Homo sapiens: one gene and its partner. The protein of the gene in region 2 interacts with the protein of the main gene of each other region in a biochemical or structural test. Each region holds a gene or a part of one and is shown on either strand. Other genes may lie near its edges. The genes, in order: PDZK1 and GUCY2C.

Evidence for each region.
Region 1: the proteins of GUCY2C (region 2) and PDZK1 form a complex in vitro, tested with the Homo sapiens proteins (one study listed by IntAct).

Annotation. Positions count from the first base shown.
Region 1 is NC_000001.11:145,675,216-145,685,833, forward strand, and holds part of PDZK1 (Na(+)/H(+) exchange regulatory cofactor NHE-RF3), read right to left. Parts: intron 7,422-10,618; coding exon 7,285-7,421; intron 5,893-7,284; coding exon 5,697-5,892; intron 3,431-5,696; coding exon 3,234-3,430; intron 999-3,233; coding exon of another isoform or gene 943-998; intron 1-942. UniProt on the Homo sapiens protein: A scaffold protein that connects plasma membrane proteins and regulatory components, regulating their surface expression in epithelial cells apical domains.
Region 2 is NC_000012.12:14,615,294-14,625,911, forward strand, and holds part of GUCY2C (guanylyl cyclase C precursor), read right to left. Parts: coding exon 10,464-10,618; intron 6,905-10,463; coding exon 6,712-6,904; intron 5,924-6,711; coding exon 5,749-5,923; intron 4,463-5,748; exon of another isoform or gene 4,445-4,462; intron 4,081-4,444; exon of another isoform or gene 4,017-4,080; coding exon 3,918-4,016; exon of another isoform or gene 3,859-3,917; intron 1,435-3,858; coding exon 1,340-1,434; intron 1-1,339.

The DNA of each region.
Region 1 (10,618 bases), on a different chromosome or scaffold from region 2:
AATAGAATTACAAGCCTAACTGGCTGTTTTAGTTGAGACAATTAGAAGGGTGGACCTGGGTATGGTGTGATCCTGGATCAGCAGCTAAATGGCTGCCCACACGTGTCCGGAACATTTGTTAGGTGATGAGTAGGAAATCAAGCAATGGAAGGTGAGCACAGTGTGGGCTCTACTTCAAATCGCACTGTTTAGCAGCCTGACTAAAATTAGATTTTTAGTCCTCTGGTTATCATGTGTCTTACTAACCACAAGACCACATCTCCTTCCTTTCTAAGTGAGAATACCACCAGCACAGAACCTCCTAGTTACCCAGTTCAACTAACTTCAGACCTTTCAGTCATATACTTGCAACAGTTCCACAATGGAGCCTTTCTCTTTAAAATATGGAAAATTATCAGGTGACTCATTACATGCAAAAATACGTCTGATAACACTACCCAAACAAGCAAATCAACTGTATCTGACAGTCGCAGCTCATCTCGAGGCAAAGTGCAATAACATTAAAACACTTGAGATTTTGGCCGGGCTTGGTGGCTCATGCCTGAAATCCCAGCACTTTGGGAGTACAAGGTGGGCGGATCACTTGAGGTCAGGAGTTCGAGACCAGCCTGGCCAAAATGGTGAAACCTCATTCTCTACTAAAAATATAAAAATTAGCCAGGTGTGGTAGCACACACCTGTAGTCCCAGCTACTTGAGAGACTGAGGCAGGAGACTCACTTGAACCTGGGAGGCAGAGGTTCCAGTGAGCTGAGAACATACCATTGCACTCCAGCTTGGACAACAGCGGGAGACTCTGTCTCAAAAAAAAAAAATGAGATTTTATTCATGCTTCATTCAGATAATTGGGTGTCTAGTATGTGCCAGGGACTGCTAGAGGGTTGTGTTTTACTCACTGATGTATCTCAAAGATCTACCCTCCACCCCAACCTACAGGGCTTACTTTGGAGAGCGGGGAAGGAGATGATGAGGGCAGGCTTCTTTTTCGATCAAAGTTCTCTATTAACCAAAACAGAAAAATTACAATTAAATCATTCTATGATAAGATCAGGAGGGGTCAGAATCCCCTTTACAACAAACAGCTGCAGCAGCCGCCTCTGATTTCTGCTTGACTTTCCACCAACTGCAAAATGACTCATCATTTCTGGCAGCTTCAGTTGGTTCTTAAGCCAAAAGCTAGCTCCCTATGGCTTCTCTGGTCCTGTTGTGCCCCATAGGACACCTTAAAAAAAATGTGTGGCCCGGGCGTGTTGGCTTATACCTGTAATCCCAGCACTTTGGGAGGCCGAGGCGGGCGGATCACAAGGTCAGGAGATCGAGACCATCCTGGCCAACATGGTAAAACTACTAAAATACAAAAAATTAGCTGGGCATGGTGGTGCGCACCTGTAATTCCAGCTACTCAGGAGGCTGAGGCAGGGGAATCGCTTGAACCCGGGAGGTGGAGATTGCAGTGAGCTGAGATGGCACCACTGCACTCCAGCCTGGTGACAGAGCAAGACAACGTCTCAAAAAAAAAAAAAAAAAGTGTGCTCCTTCTTACATGTAATAGCCTTTCAAATTCTTGAAGATGCTCTCTTCTCCAAAGCCTTACTCAAGCTAAATACTCACATGGTGGCTTCCAAAACCTCTTCCCTGGTTACCCTTGTCATTGCCTTCTTAAAGTGAAGTTCTTGAAACCGGACACAATATTGATTGAACAAATAGAACATTTAGATGTGTGAGGCATTATTCTACATGCTCTGAATATTCCAATTCAACCCTCATAGCCACCCTTCGCTGTAGCTACTACCCCTCTCTTACAACTAAGGAAACTGAAGCACAGAGAGAGGTGGTAACTATATTACCAGGTATTCCAAGTATGGTCTGACCAAGTAAGTACAGTAAGATGGTCATCTCTAGAAGCCAAGTGTCTGTCAGTTAATTTTTAAATTACCATATTTGGATGGGGCAACCACTTGGACTATGAAGTTTCTGGTCTTTTTCTGTAGTCCTCAAATCAGGTCTCACCATGTGGTATTCATACAATTTACTTTTAGGTTAGTATAGTACATCTGAAATTTATTCTTATTTCTTTAGTTTTCATTCTTTCTATCCTAACTAAATATTTTGAGTATTAATTACACCATCCAGCAAATGAATTATCTAGTGCCACTTTAAGTATGTTAATATATTTTCCATATCTCCTTTCAACTTTAAGCACATAAACGGTTAGGAACAAGTAGCATGCCATTAGAGACTTCTATTCAAGTTGATATTCAGGTTGATATCAAGTATTTTCTAGGTATGATTGTTCAAGTAGCTAAAAAAAAAAAGCCATTAATCTAATTAATTGTTTAATCCTGCTTACAAGATTATCTTGAAAAAATGTGCTGGGGAGTATGGTATAATGAATTACGGGTCCAAGAATTTGGGTTCAGATACCACCTTCAGTCTTTACTAAGCTGCGTGACTTTAGCAAAGTGCTTAGTCTCTCTAAGCTTCGGTTTCCTAATCTATGAGGAGGGCCTAAGATATCACCACCCATCATATTCCCCCCTCTGTACCGCTTATTTTAGATTCTACTATCATTGTATATCACAGAGGACATTTATCTTGTTCATCTTTACAATCAACACTTAGCAAGACAGATGGTACTTAGAAGGCCCCCCAGGTTATCTGTTAAACTAGACAACCTCAGTTCTTGTGTTAAAAGTAAAAAAAAAAAAAAAAAAAAAAAAAAAAACCTTAAAACATGCAGTAGTGGGTGTTATGATAAAGAGCTGTTAAGAGAAAATAAAGTTAGTTTGATTCAGGTTGGTCTTGGTCTATCTGTGTTTCTTTTTTATTTGCTAAGGGCTTACAAGTTGTTTAATAATCCTTTCTAGGCTTTTATGTGCAGTTGATAGCACTTAACTGACCTAAAGCTTAAAATCTAATTGTTTCCTATTTTGGGAACAATTTTATTTCCAGGCTTATATTCTCCATAGATTTTCTCAGATCACCAAGAGTAAGCCTGCAGTTATATTCACAAATTCTTTCAAAATCTTAAGACCAAGGACTTAAAACTCATTTATCAATCATTTGGCATTCTCTTATCACTACCAATTTGAGTTGAGCTTCAGTTTAGCCTTAATGATGATTGTTATGCCTCTTCCAGTTTGAGGAACAAAGTCCTAACTCAGTGCAAAAGTTGAGGTCATGAGTGAATGGGCCCAGCCTTAATGCATGAATATATGGCCTTGTATTACTTACCAGTCTGTACATGTTGTCCGTCTCTTTGTCTACCACCAACAGTGAAGTCTGATCTCCACCCTTTCTAATCATTTCTACCACACTGTCATGATCCAGGGTTTCCACAGACTCGCCGTTGACAGCAACTACCAGATCATTGTTCTTCAAGCCAGCCTCCTCTGCTGGACTTCCAGAATCTATGTCCTTGATGATTTGACCTACCCTCCCCCAACCCCAAAAAATAAAATTATCAGTAAGTCCCCTAAAAAAATAAAACAGATTTTCTGCTGGAGCCCAAAGCCCTGATGAAACAGATAAAAAAGGCATGCTGAGTACAACTACCACCCCTTCCACCAGCATCCCAGGAAGCTTATAAGCACACTATCTAGGCTCGTTTCCTGCTCAGAACTCACCCCAGAAACTAACCCAGCAATTAACAATGAAGGGGTCTTAACGAAAATAATCCTGTTACTAAAAGCGTCTGACATTTGATTTTGGCAAAATAGCATATTAAAAGGCTGCAAGTTCCCAGAAAGTCAGTGGGCATACTTGTAGCCACGCGTCTTATGTAAAAGCTGTCATAAAAGATGGGGAAGAATAAAGAACAAAACCCAAAACTTTGGACCTTAAGAAACCCAGGCTGGCATTTTAGTAGCAATTGGGTGTGTTCGGTTTTGAATATATTTGTATATACATGCCTCCATGTGCTTTGGCCTTCTGGTATCTTCACCAGATGCTGCCTTTTTTTTTTTTTTTAACAAGTTCCTGTTTCACTTTTCCAGCTAGCTGCTGGGTATCTCCAACAAAATATCTCATAGATCTCTCAACTGTAATGTATTCAAGCCAAAAATCAGCTCTGCCCATTCTCCATCCCAAAGCCCCTCCTCTTGGTTACCTGTTAGTGGAGCAACATCATCCCAGTCACCAACACTTGGCAACTGATTCTTCCCCAGCATCCAGTCCCCATATCTAGACGATTGCTAAGTCCTCTGATGCTACCATAATACCTTACACATCCCACTTCCTCTACCCTGAATGCAGTTTGTATTAGTTCCTGCCTAGAATTCTACCTAAACTATTACAGCACCTTACCTACTGCTTTCCCTTCCCCAGTCCTTCTGTCTGATACAGATCTGCCTTCAGATCCATCTTGGTGCACATTCCTAACCAAGTCACTTCCTGGTGCAACAGAATGAGCATGGGCTTTGGAACTAAACAACTATTTGACCTTACATAATTACTGTATCTTCTCCAAGCCCTCAATTTCAGCAGTTCTTCTTGCATAATTGTTAGGAGTAATTGAGATGTGCAAAGCCCCCAAGACATTATAGGCTGGTTTTTGTTCTTCTCCCTTATACTGCTCAAAAAACAACTCCCCATTGTCTGATAAGCCAAGTTCAAACTCATCAGTCTTGCATAGAAGTCCCCTTGTCACCTCTCTCCAACCTACCTTTCCAACGAATTCTTGTACTACACATCATGTGCCAATTAAACTGTGCCAGTGTCTCCTGACTGTGTTCACATGATTCCCACCTTCCTGGAATGATCTTCCTTATCCCAGCTCTGTCTACTTTCCCAAATCTATTCATGTTACAAAGCCTGAACTCAAGTGCCACCCCTACTATGAGGGCTTCTGGTACCTTTTTAGTGAGAAAAGCTTACTCTAACGTTGAATTATCACAGTGCTTGATCTGCCCCTGTATGAAGGTACTTAACCTCTATCTCCCTTCATTATGGACATATCTCTTATCTACTAAATGGTAGACTCCTTCACTAAAGAATTCCTGTCTGCTTCATATGATATTCTTTCTCCAAGGCACTGAGGATGTTTTTACAAAACACAAACCAAATTAATATTTGATAAATTAATGTAAACAGAGAGTGAAAAGAAAATAACAACTTATGGGCGAATAGCAGTTTATACGGCCCGAACTCATGTTCTTTTATGTATTTACCTTCCCTGAAAGAACCTAGTGTTCTTCCTATTGAGTTGCAAGGAAGGAGGACTCCTGGTTCTGAGTCCCAAATCCTCACCCACACCTCGGCCTCAGGTCCAGCGGTGTGCTATACTGGCTCACACCGGCTCACAAAAGCCAATTCTGTGCAACACTTCATTGTGTTCAGTGACATCGTGTTAGTAAGTTGAAACTGGACATGGGAGGAGTATTTACATCACAAAATACTACCAATTTGGTACCAAAAACAAACGCTACCAATTTGGATTTCCCCCCACCCCCGCCCCAGAGAGCTAACTTACCAGGATACCGTTGCCCAGATCCCAAATTCTGCCTTATCATAATGCTATGGAAACTTTTGATGCCCAACATCAGACCCTCATGTGACATAGACGCTGACCCAGCTGTGCCTTCTATGCTATGCCGCTCATGCATCTGGCTGGGAGTTGGGAACCTAATGGAACTCTGGAGTCAGAATGGGATGAGGAATTTGCTGGTTACTGCCAAGTTTCCTGCTCTTGTACCTTACCTTTCTGTTCTGAGCCTGCCCTCAGATAGAAACCATAGCCATTGCTTCCTTTCTTCATCTCCACAATTCGGGGCTGGTGGGGTAACAGTTTCAAACTGGCTGTTTCTCTTTTGAATTGTATCTTCTGCTCAACATGACGCTTGTCAGTTTCTTTGTCCACCAGCAGGAACATGACACGGCTTCCTGACTTCTTCACCTGTAACAACACACACAGATGAGGAATGACATCAACCCCCAAGAACAATGCTGGGGAATAAGAAAGTTTCTGTATAAAGGCACACAGTCTCTAGGTTCAACAAAAGATAGGGGATGAAAGGCCTGAGTTTAAGCTGTTACACTATGCCCTACCAGCTAACTGATATGTATTTATCGCCTTTTTTTTTTTTTTTGAGATGGAGTGTCACTCTTTCGCCCAGGCTGGAGTGCAGTGGCACTATCTCAGCTCACTGCAAGCTCTGCCTCCCGGGTTCACGCCATTCTCCTGCCTCAGCCTCCCGAGTACCTGGGACTACAGGTGCCCGCCACCGCACCTGGCTAAATTTTTTTTTTTTTATTTTTAGTGGAGACGGTGTTTCACCTTGTTAGCCAGGATGGTCTCGATCTCCTGACCTCGTGATCCACCCGCCTCGGCCTCCCAAAGTGCTGGGATTACAGGCGTGAGCCACCGCGCCCGGCCCCTATCTCCACTTCTATAGTTGTTTTCCCTTATTTAAGTATGACCTACCCACATAGGTGCTAACTGAGCCCAAGTAGGAGCTGGAATTCAGAAAACCCATAAAGGTACCTAGATAAAAGCTAGAAAGGGAGTTTGGAAAAGAAAAGAAAGTAAGGGTCCACGTCAAAAAATCATTCTACAAAGAGAAGGTTGGTCAATTTTTAAGGTTCCATATGACCTCAAAGGAAAATCTCGGTTATCTCCCACTTCCTATTAAAGCATTTCAGTATTAACGGCTCAACAGTGAACTTATTGTAAATTCAGAGGGCGCAGTGGCACACGCCCATAATCCCAGCACTTTGGGAGGCCAAGGCGGGCAGATCACTTGAGCTCAGGAGTTCAAGACCAGCCTGGCCAACATAGTGAGACCCTATCTCTACAAAACACACACACACACACACACACACACACACACACACACACACATAAAAATTAGCCAGGTGCGGTGGTGCACACCTGTAGTCCCAGCTACTCAGGAAGCTGAGGTAGAAGAATCATCTGAGCCCAGGAGGCCGAGACTGCAATGAGCCGAGATTGTGCCACTACACTCCAGCCTGGGTAACAGAGTGAGACCCTGTCTCAATCAAACAGTTCAGAGGGGGCTCCCAATCAGATACAAACAAGATCCAAAAGGTAAAGTTAATAATTTTGTAGACCTCATGTGAAACTAGGGAAGGCTTTATTCCAAAACCCTATATTAACACTGCTTATACCACTAGTGTGAGTCTGTTCACCCTTAATATGAAGGGGCAACTCAACTGGATATTTTTTCCATCATAAACTCATGCTGTCCCCTACCACCCCTGTCTTCCTGTCACCTCCAATGAGAATAGAGTGGAAGATAGGGTAAGAAAAGTACCCTTTGGGGCATACCTTTTCAACCACTTCCTCATGGCTGGCATCCTCTACATTCTCTCCATTCACTTCAATCAAGTGATCATCAGCCAGAACTCCAGCTCTCATAGCCACACCTTGAGGTGTAATATCAGTCATGTACACCCCCTTTTTACCTGGAAGAGAGTAGGGGTAAACTCCATGTGGAGACACAAGTGACTCCCTCTTGGATGGTAATCTGTGATGTTGACTTCTGATTAGCCCCAGTCCTGTGATTGCCTCCCGATTTCTACTTCATTTACTGTCCCTAGTCTAAGAACATGTCAACCTTAATGTTATCACGCAAATTATAGGCTATGATGCACTATAGCATTCTTGGCTATTGCGGAGGGCTGCCTTCGATTGTCTTGCTGGAGCACATATACCCTTTCCCTATGGTATATCAGCCTTGGGTCTGGGGAGTAACACAGAGATCTACATGTTTTGTGGCTGTCCAAGACCATGCTTCTGTTCGTAAGTTCCCCTGATAAATTCCAATGTACCAACAAACTGGATTTGCCTGCCTTGTCCTTTGGTTTCTCAGCTCCTTTGGCCTTTGAGGGACTGCTTTGCATACACCACCCTTTCACAGAACACTCCATTGCAAAGAAAAACTCGAAATCCAATGGTAAAGACTTTTCTCCCAATAATGTGAAACAAACTTCCGATTTTAGAGCTAACTCGGCCTTTGGCTTCTGATCTAAAATCACAGTTATAGGTCCTGGCACTGAACTTGACACAGCCTTTACTCAGTGGGTATTTGTTGATTTGAATAGAATTTCTGAGGTCAGCTAAATGCAAAGATGGAATCTTGGGTGGCCTTGGCCCCTTGAACCAGAAAGCGCTAAAACATGCCCACACTGCATTATTGTGTCATACGCCCTTTCTTTGCATTTGTAGAATCAGAAAGCATCTTTACCATTCTCTCCTCTTCAGTTTGTACTATTATATTAGCCATCGTATGCTGTGGAGTCATCTCACCAATGTAGGCTAACAAGGACAGGCACAGGAGGGAGGGAAGAACCCGAATGCATTTAGGTGGTGAGATTTAGGTGCTACTTATAGAAATGCTGTCAATTCTTCAAAGATATTAATAGAGCAGTTCCCCCTTAACCATGGGGGATACATTCCAAGACCCCCAGTGGAGGCCTGAAACTTTAAGATAGTATACCGAACCCTATATGTTTTTTCCTGTGCTTACATACCTACAATAGAGTTTAACTTATAAATTAGGCACAGTAAGAGATTAACAATAACTGAGCTAATCTTAGCAACCTCAGCATACAGTATTTTTTCTTTCCTTATTAAATCGAGAACTTTTCACTTAATAGAAGCACTTTACAGCCTTTTTTTTTTTTTTTTTAACAGATGGAGTCTCGCTCTGTCACCTAGGCTGGAACGCAGGGCCGCAATCTTGGCTCACAGCAACCTCTGCCTCCCCGGTTCAAGCGATTCTCCTGCCTCAGCCTCTCGAGTAGCTGGGACTACAGGCGCCTGCCACCGCGCCTGGCTAATTTTTGTATTTTTAGTAGAGATGGGGTTTCGCCATGTTGGCCAGGCTTGTCTCGAACTCCTGACCTCAGGTAATCCACTCGCCTCGCACTCTCAAAGCGCTAGGATTACAGATATGAGCCACTGTGCCCGGCCACTTTACAGCTTCTCTTTGTCATATCTGAACTGCCAGCATCACTATCCTTGCATTTTTGGCTTTTTTTTTTTTTTTTTTTGAGACGGAGTCTTGCTTTATCGCCCAGCCTGGAGTGCAGTGGCGCAATCTGAGCTCACTGCAACCTCCGCCTCCCGGGTTCACACCATTCTCCTGCCTCAGCCTCCTGAGTAGCTGGGACTACAGGCGCCCACCACCACACCCGGCTAATTTTTTGTATTTTTAGTAGAGACAGGGTTTCACCGTGTTAGCCAGGATGGTCTCGATCTCCTGACCTCATGATCTGCCCGCCTCGGCCTCCCAAAGTGCTGGGATTACAGGCGTGAGCCACTGCGCCCGGCCTGAGCTATTATTTTTTATTGATACATAACATTTGTACATATTTATAGGGTGTGTGTCATATTTTGATACCAAGAGCATATAATGAACAAATCAGGGTGTAATATTTAGGACATCCATCCTTGAACATTTATCATTTCTTTGTGTTGAGAATATTTCAAATCTTCTTACAGCTATTTTGAAATGTACAATACATTGTTGTTAACTACAGTCACCCCACTGTGCTATCAAACATTAGAACTTATTCCTTCTCTCTGTGGGTTTGTACCCATTAACCTAGCTCTCTTCATCCCCACCCTACCCCACACACATACCCTTCCCAGCTGCTGGTATCTCTCATTCTACTCTCTACCTCCATGAGATTCACCTTTTTTAGCTCCCACATATGAGAATATGTGATATTTTTCTTTCTGTGCTGGGCCATTATTAAGCAAAATAAGGATTATTTGAACACAGTACTTTAATACCGTGACAGTTGACCTGGTAACTGAGTAGTAAGTAGTAAGACTAACAGGCAGGTAAGCACATGCCACGTGGAGATGCTAGACAAACAGAGGATTCATGTCCAAGACGGGGCAGGACAGCACAAGATTTCATTACACTACTCATAATGGTTCACAATGCAAAAATTATGTATGGAATTTTCCATTTAATATTTTCAGACCACAGTTGCCTGCAGGTAAGGTAACTGAAACTATGGAAAGCCAAACAGGATAAGGGGGGACTCTTGTATGTCAACCTAGGCAAGGGATCGCTTGCTAATGACTACATAAATCACTTGTAAGGAATGACAATAACTTAAACTCTGCTTCCTTAAACACTCAGCATTTCTCCTGCTACCTTGTTATATATTTGTCATGAAGAGACCATTTTCCTCATAAAGCTAACCTAAACCATTCACCATGTGCATTAGCACATGAGCCAGATGAGTAGAATCTGAATTATGATTTTCTTTTTTTTACCACTTTACTGATAATAGGCTTCTAAGACGTGCCAAGCTTCCTTTGACTATACACACCACTGTGTTTAATAACTGACAGACCTGAGAAATACCCCTTATCGTGAGTTTACATCTCTTGGTACAGGTTAAATAAGCCTTAGAAACTATTTTAAATTTACCACTGGTCTGCTGCTGTATCACTTGCCAAATCATGACCTACCACCAGTGCTTCTCCAGCCCCAGAAAGAACATAGGCAGAGGCAGTGTTCAAGAAGGAATTGACCAGCTAACACAGCTCCTCTGGTTCCAACCAATACCCCAGAGCCACGGTCAACTGAACACAGGTTAGTCTGCACCTCTGAAATTCTAGAAATAGAACTTCTGGTGCT
Region 2 (10,618 bases):
AAATCCAACTGGTTGTCATTGTCCATATTTCCTTCTAGCCCTTTTTGCAATAAAGTTTTGCTACAAAACTTTTGCTACAGTTTCCCTATCTTATTACAAACACATGTACATCACAATTAAGAACTCATTAAGTGGCATTTCTGGGGCCCATCTGGAGGCTACGGAATGTATGGAAATTTACTGGAATACTGGAAACCCTGTTTTTGCTAAAGCTGGTATTTGAAAAAGAGATACAAAATACATATGGCCCAAACACAGCCAGTGAACCACTATTTTTAAAAAATGAGTTTAATAATATATATCTATAATATATATCAATAATTTAAAAATGAGTGATTGATATATATATATATATAATTGATATATATTGTTAAACTCATTTAAAAAAGTAGTGGTTCACTGGCTGTGTTTGGACCATAGCAATCCATAAACTGGTTCTATTTTGGGGTAAGTGTTCTTTGTAAAAAATGTACTTATGGAGGACTCAAAAAGCAAGTGTGATGTTAGGACACTTTTACGTAAAAGGAGACTTTTCCAAGGTGCAATCCAAATGTAAAGGCCAGAAGCATTATGGCTACCGGAGACAGGTAACTTACAGTTAATAGCTGGCTTTGCCAGTTGTGAAAAGATTCCAATAACTTTGGAAAAGCAGCCTGAGAAGCATTTGGAGACAACTGATGGCTATGGAGGGCAGCTGTTTTAAATGTGAGGAACTGCATGAAGAATCTGGAATAGCGATTCTCAAATATTAGTGTGGTCACAAACACATTATCTTGTTAAAAATATAGATTTCTGATCTACGCCCACAGAGAATCTTGCATAGTAGGCCTGGTAGAGTGTCCACACATCTGCATTTTAACAAGCTTCCAGATGAGGAAGAGGAGGAGAATGGGGCCACACCTTGTCATTCACTCCTTGTGATTCTAGAGCTTCCGAATAGTAAAGCAACTGGCAAGAGAGGTGACCTCAGATCATAGCAGCAGTGTGTAGTAAGAGTAGGGAAGTAAGTGGGGGGACAAGGGTTTTGATTCAAATTAAATAAGTCCTGGACCAGACTGTATGTAGCTCTTGTGTTTGGAGGAGGAACTGGATACAAAACCTGGATATGGCAGAGGAAATGCTGGCAGAGTTCAAAATCTCAAAAGGGCTCTTTGGAGTAAAGGCAAGTTTTGAGTTCACATTTTTTGGTGGTCATTTCTCTTGCAGAGGATGGAGGGTGCTCATCGTGATGAGTACAGAAGAGGATTAGCATGCTCAACTTTCCTGGCCAAGTCTCAAAGGAGGTGGCCCAAGCGTGTCTGAGAGCTTTTCCTATGCATTGTCTCTGTGGACTCCTTACCTTTAAGTATGTTTCTCCTCTCACTTCATAAAGGAACTGGCACTCAGTTCTCTTCAGGATGGCTATGGTGGAGCCACTCACGTGAATTCTCAAAGCTGGAAATGCAAATTGACAAATAAAAATCCCAGCTAGTACACAGCCTATTTGTTTCCCGTTGATTCAGGATATCAACAACACCTGAGACAAGAATCCTAAATCAAGAAGAAACAATTGTGGCTATTTTAATGAAAGAACACTTAAAAATAACATCAGAGAGATAAGAAATGGTATAGTTTGGATATTTGTCCCCACCCAAATCTCATGTTGAATTTTAATCCCCAGTGCTGGAGTCCTGGCCCCCGACCAGGTGTCTGGGTCACAGGGGTGGATCCCTCATGGCTTGGTGCTGTCTTTGCGATACTGAGTTGTCACAAGATCTGGTCATTTAAAAAGGTGTGGCACCTGCCCCTGCCACTCTCTTTCTTACTCCTGCTTTTGCTGTATGAAGTGCCTGCTCCTGCTTTGTCTTCTGCCATGAGTGAAAGCTTCCTGAGGCCTCCCCAGAAGCAGATGCAGGTGCTATTCTTCCCTTACAGCCTGCAGAACCATGAGCCAATTAAACCTCTTTTCTTATAAATAACCCAGTCTCAGGTTTTTCTTTATAGCAATGCAAGAATGCCCTCACACAAGAAATATAATCTCACGTGGGAAGAAAGAAGGCCTGGCATCAGTTTTCAGGGCCCTGCGTGATGTGATGGGGATCCCTAGGTTTTTCTCCATAGATTCTCATTCCAGCTCAGAGTAGTAGCCTGCGGGACCTAGTTTTAGATTTGGCTTGTAGTGCCAAGCTTGGGTGTTGGAGTTTGGTTTTGGGTCCCTGTGGAAAAGTTCCAATAAATAGCTAAAGCCTTGTGGGCAAGGTGAAGATTCGGGAGAGTTGAGGGGTCTTGATTTTCTCAAATTTCCTTCTTCTGGAACATTGTTATCCTTTGACAAAAGAAGTGGTGAGGGCACGCCCATTCACAAGTCCATTGATGTGTATCACCTTTCCCAATATAGGGGCCTAATAGCAATACCACAAACAATTACACAGTAAGAATAATGACAATCCCAAATTGTATACCTACCATGTACCATGATTGCTAAACGCTTAACATGACATCATCCCAAATTATTTCAGAAACCCTCTTGGCACGGTTGGTATTCCATTTTCAATTTGTATCTTTATCTTTCTGAGGGCTAGAAGGATCAGGTAGCTTTCTACTCAACTTATACTGAGAATGATTAACATAATTTCAATTGTAACCCAAGTCTGTCTGACCCCAACCTTATCCTTTTCCTTGCCAGCATGATTTGCCAGGACAAACTAGTATCACATTGTCAGTACACTACCAAAATACCATCCTGCCTCCTGTGGTTTCGTAAGCCCCAGCCATGTCTCCCAGTGCTTATTTTCTCTCTTCTATATATTTCTACTGCTACCACTGTCATCAATATTTATTGAGCATCTACTTCATGCAGCACATTGTGCCTCTACCTTGCCAAGCAAATGCAATATATTCCTTCGTATATAACAAATGCTTAGATTTTTCTTTACTAAAATCAATTCTTGGTTGGGTATGATGGCTCTTGCCTGTAATTCCAACACTTTGGGGCTTTGGGGGACCAAGGCAGGAGACTTGCTTGAGCCCAGGAATCTGTGACCAGCCTAGACAACATAGAGAGACCACACCTCTACAGAAAAAATTAAAAAATTAGCTGTGCATGGTGGCATGCCTGTAGTCCCAGCTACTTAGGAGGCTGAGGTGGGAGGATCACTAGAGCTGAGGAGTTCAAGGATGCAGTGAGCTGTGATTGTGCCACTGTGCCAAAGCCTAGGCGACAGAGTGAGACCCCATCTCAAACAAATAAACAAAAATCAATTTCCAGAAAAAACGAATATGCTTTGGGAGGCCAAGGTGGAAGGACTCCTTGAGGTCAGGAGTTTGAGACCAGCCTGGGCAACATAGTGAGACCCAGTCTCTATTAAAAATTTAAAAATTATCTGGATGTGCTGGTATGTTCCTGTAGTCCCAGGTACTTGGGAGGATGAGGTGGGAGGATCACTTGAGCCCAGGAGTTCAAGTTTACAGGGAGCTATGATCGTGTCACTGCACTCCAGCCTGGGTGACAGAACGAGAGCCTGTCTCTAAAAAACAACAACAAAAAAGCAAAACCAAATAAGAGGGAAACAGGAATGTGAACCAGAGTGTGTAGTTCTTACCTTGCCTACTGATTTTTTTTTAACTTTCATGAATCTATGGTAAATGCCAGGACTATTCTAAGTAGAATATCCCCAGATTCATTGTATATGAGCCAAAAATATAGAAATAGTCTAAAACTGAGCAAAAGTGGAAGAATAAAATAATTATCAGTAAACAACAATGAAAGCAAATGTAGCAAAAGGTGGATTGACACGGGTTTGTGTTCAGCTAATGTGAAGAATTATTCTACATCTCACTGGCACTTTGTATCTCCTTATTGTGCATTTTATCTCACAGTTGCCCTCTGCTGGAAAACAGCATCTTTGTCCTCTGAGAAAAACAGTCTCCCTTCTTACGGAGGCCAGTGGATTCCATCCTAGAGGCTGTGTTGACCGTATCTCCAAATAGACAATAACGAGGCATCTTGATTCCCACAACTCCAGCAGCACAGGGACCTGAAATGAAGGACAGAAAGCAGGAAGTGGAGGCAATAGAAATTGCAGAGTAGAGTGAAGACAGGTAAGCCTCTCTGTATGGTCACAATCCTGAATACTTCCTGTCATGGAGAAGTAGCTGAGGATGTGAAATGTGAGCTGGGACTTTTGGTTTAAATGGATGAATCCAATGAAGCATCATTATTCAATGCATGCGATCATAAAGTATTTTGCTCTCGCAAAGAAAACGACATTTGTAGCAAATAGGAAGGCATTCAGAGATCCAGATCACAAAGGTGATTTTAAATAGAAGGCTCTCAGGAAGGATGAAGATGAGCCCCACTGCTTGCTTACTGTGCCAAACCACACAACCCTGAATTTCACACTGCTGGAGGGCACTGTAGATTTGAAGCTTCAATGGCTCAAGTTTGTTTTATTTTTATTTTAAGGTGGCATTTCTGGGATTGGTGCCATGACAATGGAAGACAGAAGACAAGACAAAGGCATAACTTTCCGTAAGCATTTCATGGACCAGGCGAATGCAGCTGGATGGGGAAGCCTGTGGCACAAGGAGGTTCCAACAAGCAGAACAAAAGCCCAGGCTAGACTATGCGCTGTGGCATATTAGGTAGGAAATAAGGGTTATTCAGTCATGTATTTGCATAGAATGACTGAGTGCAAGGTGTTAACAGTTTCAGAAGTTAAAGATTAACTCAAAAACTGCAAAGCTGAGTTTTAAGCAATGCCTGGCTAAAGATTCATCTAGATGACTTCTGAGTTCCTCTCTTACAGGTGTTTTTTCTATAACACCTGTAACTCATCTCAAACCTTGATGTTCAAGGCTGTTGAATTAAACTAAGTTTGGCCTGAGGCTGCCTCTTAGGGGTCCCTACAAAACAAACTGCAACCTAGCTTGGTACATAAACAAACTAAAAGCCTAACTAGGGTATACTTACGTTATAGATAGCTGAGTCTCAGCCAATCGCAGTAGCTGAGCTTCAGCCAGTCACAGGCTGTCAACTGATGGGACTTTGACCAAATCAGGGGAACACAGAGGTTTGACCAATCAAGTTGTTTCTGTCCCTCACTTCTGTTTTCTGTCTATAAACATTGCCCGCCCACCTTGCCCATTGAAGCTCTCTGAACCTCTTCTGGTTTTAAGGGCCATCTGATTTGAAAATTATTCTTTGCTCAATCAAACTGTGTTAAATTTAATATGCATAAGCTTTTCTTTTAACAAGGCTATGTAACTTTCATGGTCTTTGAAAGTGACTCATGTACTTTCTGTATAACTGCAGTGGCAGGGAAGGGAGGGGGTATAAATATTATAGAAATTTCACCATCTGTTCTTTATTTCCCCTTGTAGATAATCTAATCCACTTAAGATACTATAATATTTTAGTGGGAAAATATATTGAAGTTGGGGGTGGGGAGAAAGGGAATGGGGAGGAAATAAATGAAATCATAGGTATGGTGATTTAAATAGGAGTCCAAAGCTTCTTGTTTTCGTACATGTTTGGTGTTTATCATGTCAGCAGTCAGTGGTGCCCTCAAAGGTCTTGTTCTTAGAGTTCTCTAGGAACTGGGTCTAAATATCTCAGGATGCATAGTGGGACCTCACATTTGGCAAAAAGAATTAAGAGTAAAAATTATGTGAGGTCGATCACACTTGAAGACCTTTTATCCTTTCTGATTTAGTTGGTGCACAGCAGTACATATGGTTCCCAATTTGCTAAGATGCTCAACTCCATACCAGAGTGAACTCCAATGCGAATCCATATTGGGAGGCCAGGAAGATGCTCCAGCTCAAAGGTCCCCATGAAGCTGAGGATTTCCAAGGCCATCTTGGCAATGTCTATTGCATGCCGATTGCCATTTCTCTTAGGCAAACCACTAGCCACCATGTACGCATCACCGATGGTTTCCACCTGTGGAAACAGTTTCTCATGAGTGCCTCTGCCCCTTTGAAAAGTATAGAAAGTAAACAGAAGCAGTTAATCACATGTCAAACACAAAAAGTGATTTGGGAACACAGTATGAGCATAGCCCTTTACACTTTTTCTGGGGCCAGTTGGATCAGTTCTATGCTGATTTCTTCAGGGTTTTTATAGTCCAGTTAATGGGTGATAAAATAGCTATAAAGGAATTTAGCCATTTAAAAGTACTTCATAATTATATAAATTGTCCAGATGTGGTGACAGTTCTAGAAATGTTCAAATAAATAATCTGAATGGTTTTATGTAATTTGAGGAACACCCTTAGTTTCCTGAAAATTAATCCTTTAGCAAATGTCAACATACTATTTAACAGAATATTGTACTTTGTAATATGTAATTGTATACATTCTTGTAGTATGATTTTCTATTTATTATAACCCCAGTGTCTTCTCTGCTTCATTTGCAGTCAGCCTAAACACTGCCCATTTTTTGGAGGTGATTTAAGAGTATGCCATTTTGTCTAAATTTAATACTTCAAATTAATTCCTGCTGAACTTCCTGTTGTATCTTTTTTGCTGCTTCTTAAAGTTGAATGGTAATTTTGACTTCTCACTCCTCTAATCCTTCTACTTCTCTTCACTTTTAGCTCAGATTCAACCACCAATTCACTAAATGTGAAACTAGAGCGGTCAAGAGTAGTAACAGAAACAACCAATTCAGGCTCTGATGACCTTGAGTTGTACAATTAATGGTTTCAGCCTGTTAGGTGATGTGGTTACCTTGTAGACATCATGATGATCAACAATGTGGTCAAAACTCTTATAGATGTCATTAAGCATGTCCACCACTTCCATGGGGGTGCTGTATTTGCAGATAGTAGTGAAACCTACAATGTCACTGAAGTAGATTGTAACTTCCTCATATAGTTCCGGCTCCACAAAGCCTTTCTCCTTCAGAGACTTTACCACTAGCCTAGATGAACGAAGGGAAAAAAAATGCCTTCAACTTCAGCAAATTTCTTCTTGTTTCACATAAATCTTTCAGGTAGTAGTGATTGTCTACCAAGAATTCTAGAATTTGAGACTTCCAGTGAATTGAGTGAATCGGAAACAGAGGTTGTGTATATCATATACATGAACATATTACACAAATACACATATAATGCATGTTGTGAACACAGATGAATACAAGCAGGTTCAACATTAACTTAGTGTTTGATTATTAATCCTAATACACATAAATAGATAACTTTAATATCCTCAAAACTCTCATACATATACATACTTGTCCACTTTTTGCTTCTCTATTGATAATCAACCTCTTACAGATGTGGCTCTACATGCAGAAGCTGAGGAGAGTGTGGTATTACTTAAATCACCACAGGTATCAGATCTGAATTTCTCAACAAAGTTGATAGTTTTACTTTCCTGGCATATGTAATATGGCATTGCTTAATATTACTATGAAATAATGATGCATTTAAATATAAATTTTGATATATTCTGAACCAGAGTTCATTTGATATTTTGAACCAGATTTGGGTCCTTTGTAAAGCAGAATCAATCATGTAAATAAATTAAATCATGCTAAAACTGTAGAAGTCAAATTAAAGCAACTTTTAGAATATCTTTGCTGAATGAGGAGCAGCATATCAGATTCAAGATTGAAGGAAGAGAACCAGAAGAAGGGACTCCATACTTGGTGTGCCAAGTTACCTCTTCATTGAGAAAAGGAAGTGAGGGCTGACATGAAGTGGGATGGTCCCTGTCTGTCCTTGGCATCACTTTGTAGTGGCCCTCAGTATGGAACCACTAGAATCAGAAACTGGAAGCTGGGAGGTTCCACGGAAGTCATTGAAAAGAAATCTTTATTTTTACAGATGAGAAAGTTGAGGTCTAAAAAAGTATGACTTCCCTAAGTTCCCACAGCCGATTAGGGACAGAGCCAGGGCTAGAATTCAGGAAGCCTTCAGTCCCACCCATCAGTCTTTTTTTGCATTACACTCCCTGCACAACCCAGGCCTTGGATATTCAGGAAGATGGGGAAGATTTGGAGGTATGCTGACTGCAACAAAGGAGGTGGGCTCTCCCGGAAAGAAAACAACCAATCAACCACAAAGATTTCTAACACTCATTTGGAGAACCTCCAGAGTATCCGGAGAAACCTTTTTAATTGGTGCAATGACAAAACTTGGAACCTTTGAAAAACATTCCTTTGGTGTGGCTTGGATTCCTAGGTACACGACTGGAGTGGTTGTTCTTGACATGCCCTGTATAAAGTGCATAGTATTTTGGAGGCTGCATAGATGCAATGACAAAATTGGATATTCTGCCATATTTGCAATTCATTGTACTGCTTATATCTGAAAAGTCACATGAGTTTGGTGATATGGTTTGGCTCCGTGTCCCCACCCAAATCTCATGCTGAATTGTAATCCCCAATGTTAAGGGAGGGACCTGGTGGGAGGTGATGGGATCATGGGTGCAGATTTCCCCATTGCTGTTCCTGTGTTAGTGAGTTCTCATGAGATCTAGTTGTTTGAACGTGTGTGGCACCTCCCCCTTTGCTCTCTCTCTCTCTTCCTGCCATGCGAAGAAGGTGCTTGCTTCCCCTTCACTCTTCCACCATGGTTGTACATTTCCTGAGGCCTCCCCAGCCATGCTTCTTGAACACCCTGTGGAACTGTGAGTTATTTAAACCTCCTTTCCTCATAAATTACCTAGTCTCGGGTAGTTCTTTATAATAGGGTGAGAATGGACTATTACACTTGGAAAATAGTGTGTTATCCAGAGAGAGAAACTCATGTTGTAAATAAACGAAGGAAGGGCTGGGAGTTAACATGATGAGCTTTGATAACAGGTTGTTGCTGACATAGATAAAATTAGTATACAGAGTAGATCTCTTAGAAAGTCTTCCCAGAAGAAAAAACTTCTGGCCAGGCACAGTGGCTCACACCTGTAATCCCAGCACTTTGGGAGGCCGAGGTGGGTGAATCACCTGAGGTCAGGAGTTCGAGACCAGTCTGGCCAACATGGTGAAACCCCCTCTCTACTAAAAATGCAAAAATTAGCTGGGTGTGGTGGCAGGCGCCTGTAATCCCAGCTACTTGGGAGGCTGAGGCAGGAGAATTGCTTGAACCCAGGAGGCAGAGGTTGCAGTGAGCTGAGCTCATGTCGTTGCACTCCAGCCTGGGCAACAAGAGTGAAACTCCATCTCAAAAATAAATAAATTAATTAATTAAATAAAATAAAAATAAAAAAGAAGAAACTTCTATTTTAATGTATTTACCCCAAGGGGTACTATTCAAATAAATGTCTAAGTGATATCTGGTTCCTACATGCAATCTTAAGTTTATTTGCCCTTTGCTACACATATTTCTTTTTGATTCTTCTAGTTATTGCTCATGCATGTTTTAGTTTTATCTTGCGCATAAAATTTTTACATAAATAACCAAAGTGAGTTGTGCTGAAGCCATGGTGTATTGTAGCTCTTCAAGAGACTTGTGTGATATAACCTTTGGAAATCCAATAAAAACATCTACCAACTAGTAGTCCAAGTGGCATATTGAACTAAGGCTAGGAAAAAAGCTGAAATGGTGAGCCAGCTGATTCAAACCACTTGAGTGACATTAATGGTTAAAACCACCGCCAATGAAACCCTGGGAAGGCAGCCAGATAACCAGGATATTGTTTTTGTCACAACTCAGCATTAAAGATCAGGCAAGGAGTTATGCATTATGTACCTAATATTTATGGAGCTGTGATAGAAATTATCATCCTTGAAGTGAATATGAAGGGTTCCCTACTGTTCCCAGGCACTCTGAGGGCTCATGGGTTCTGCCCTTCTATCACAAGGTTGCAAGACACCACTTGCCAAATGTGTTCCAACTCCTTTCCCCCAAGCTGTGATCCGCCTCCTAGTTTTCTTGCAGGTGATTTGACTTTCAGAGGTTTGAGATTTTGAGGTCAGAGTTACTAAAGGAGATCAGGGGCTCCAGCTCGGGCTTCTTGGGTAGAATCCCAGCTCTGCCATTCACTGGGTGACCTTCAGAACATTACTTAGTAGAGTACAAACTGGAACAAGGCTTAGCAAAGTACATGCATTTTTTTTTTTTTTTTTTGAGACGGAGTCTTGCTCTGTCACCCAGGCTGGAGTGCAGTGGCGCGATCTTGGCTCACTGCAACCTCCGCATCTTGGGTTCACTCCATTCTCCTGCCTCAGCCTCCCGAGTAGCTGGGACTAAAGGTGCGCGCCACCACACCTGGCTAATTTTTTTTATTATTATTTTTAGTAGAGGTGGGGTTTCACCATGTTAGCCAGGATGGTCTTGATCTCCTGACCTCATGATCCACCTGCCTCAGCCTCTCAAAGTGCTAGGATTACAGGCGTGAGCCTCCGTGCCTGGCAGTACGTGCATTTTAAAACCAATAATCTACTGAAGAATATATAAAAGGAAACAAATCCTATATAGATACAATGAAAAGCAATGCTAGAGGGATTTCAGCCTCCACATCAGCAAGGCTTGCCTTACCTTGGAAGCAACATAAAGTTAAGTCTGTCAGCCCTGTCCCTCTCTGCCTTGTACAGCTGTGTCCTTTCCTCTACCAGATGTTCCAGGTTTCGAGAATATAGCTGTAGACGTCGGATCAAGGTATCCATATAGCTTTCATTTTTTTGGTCATGAAA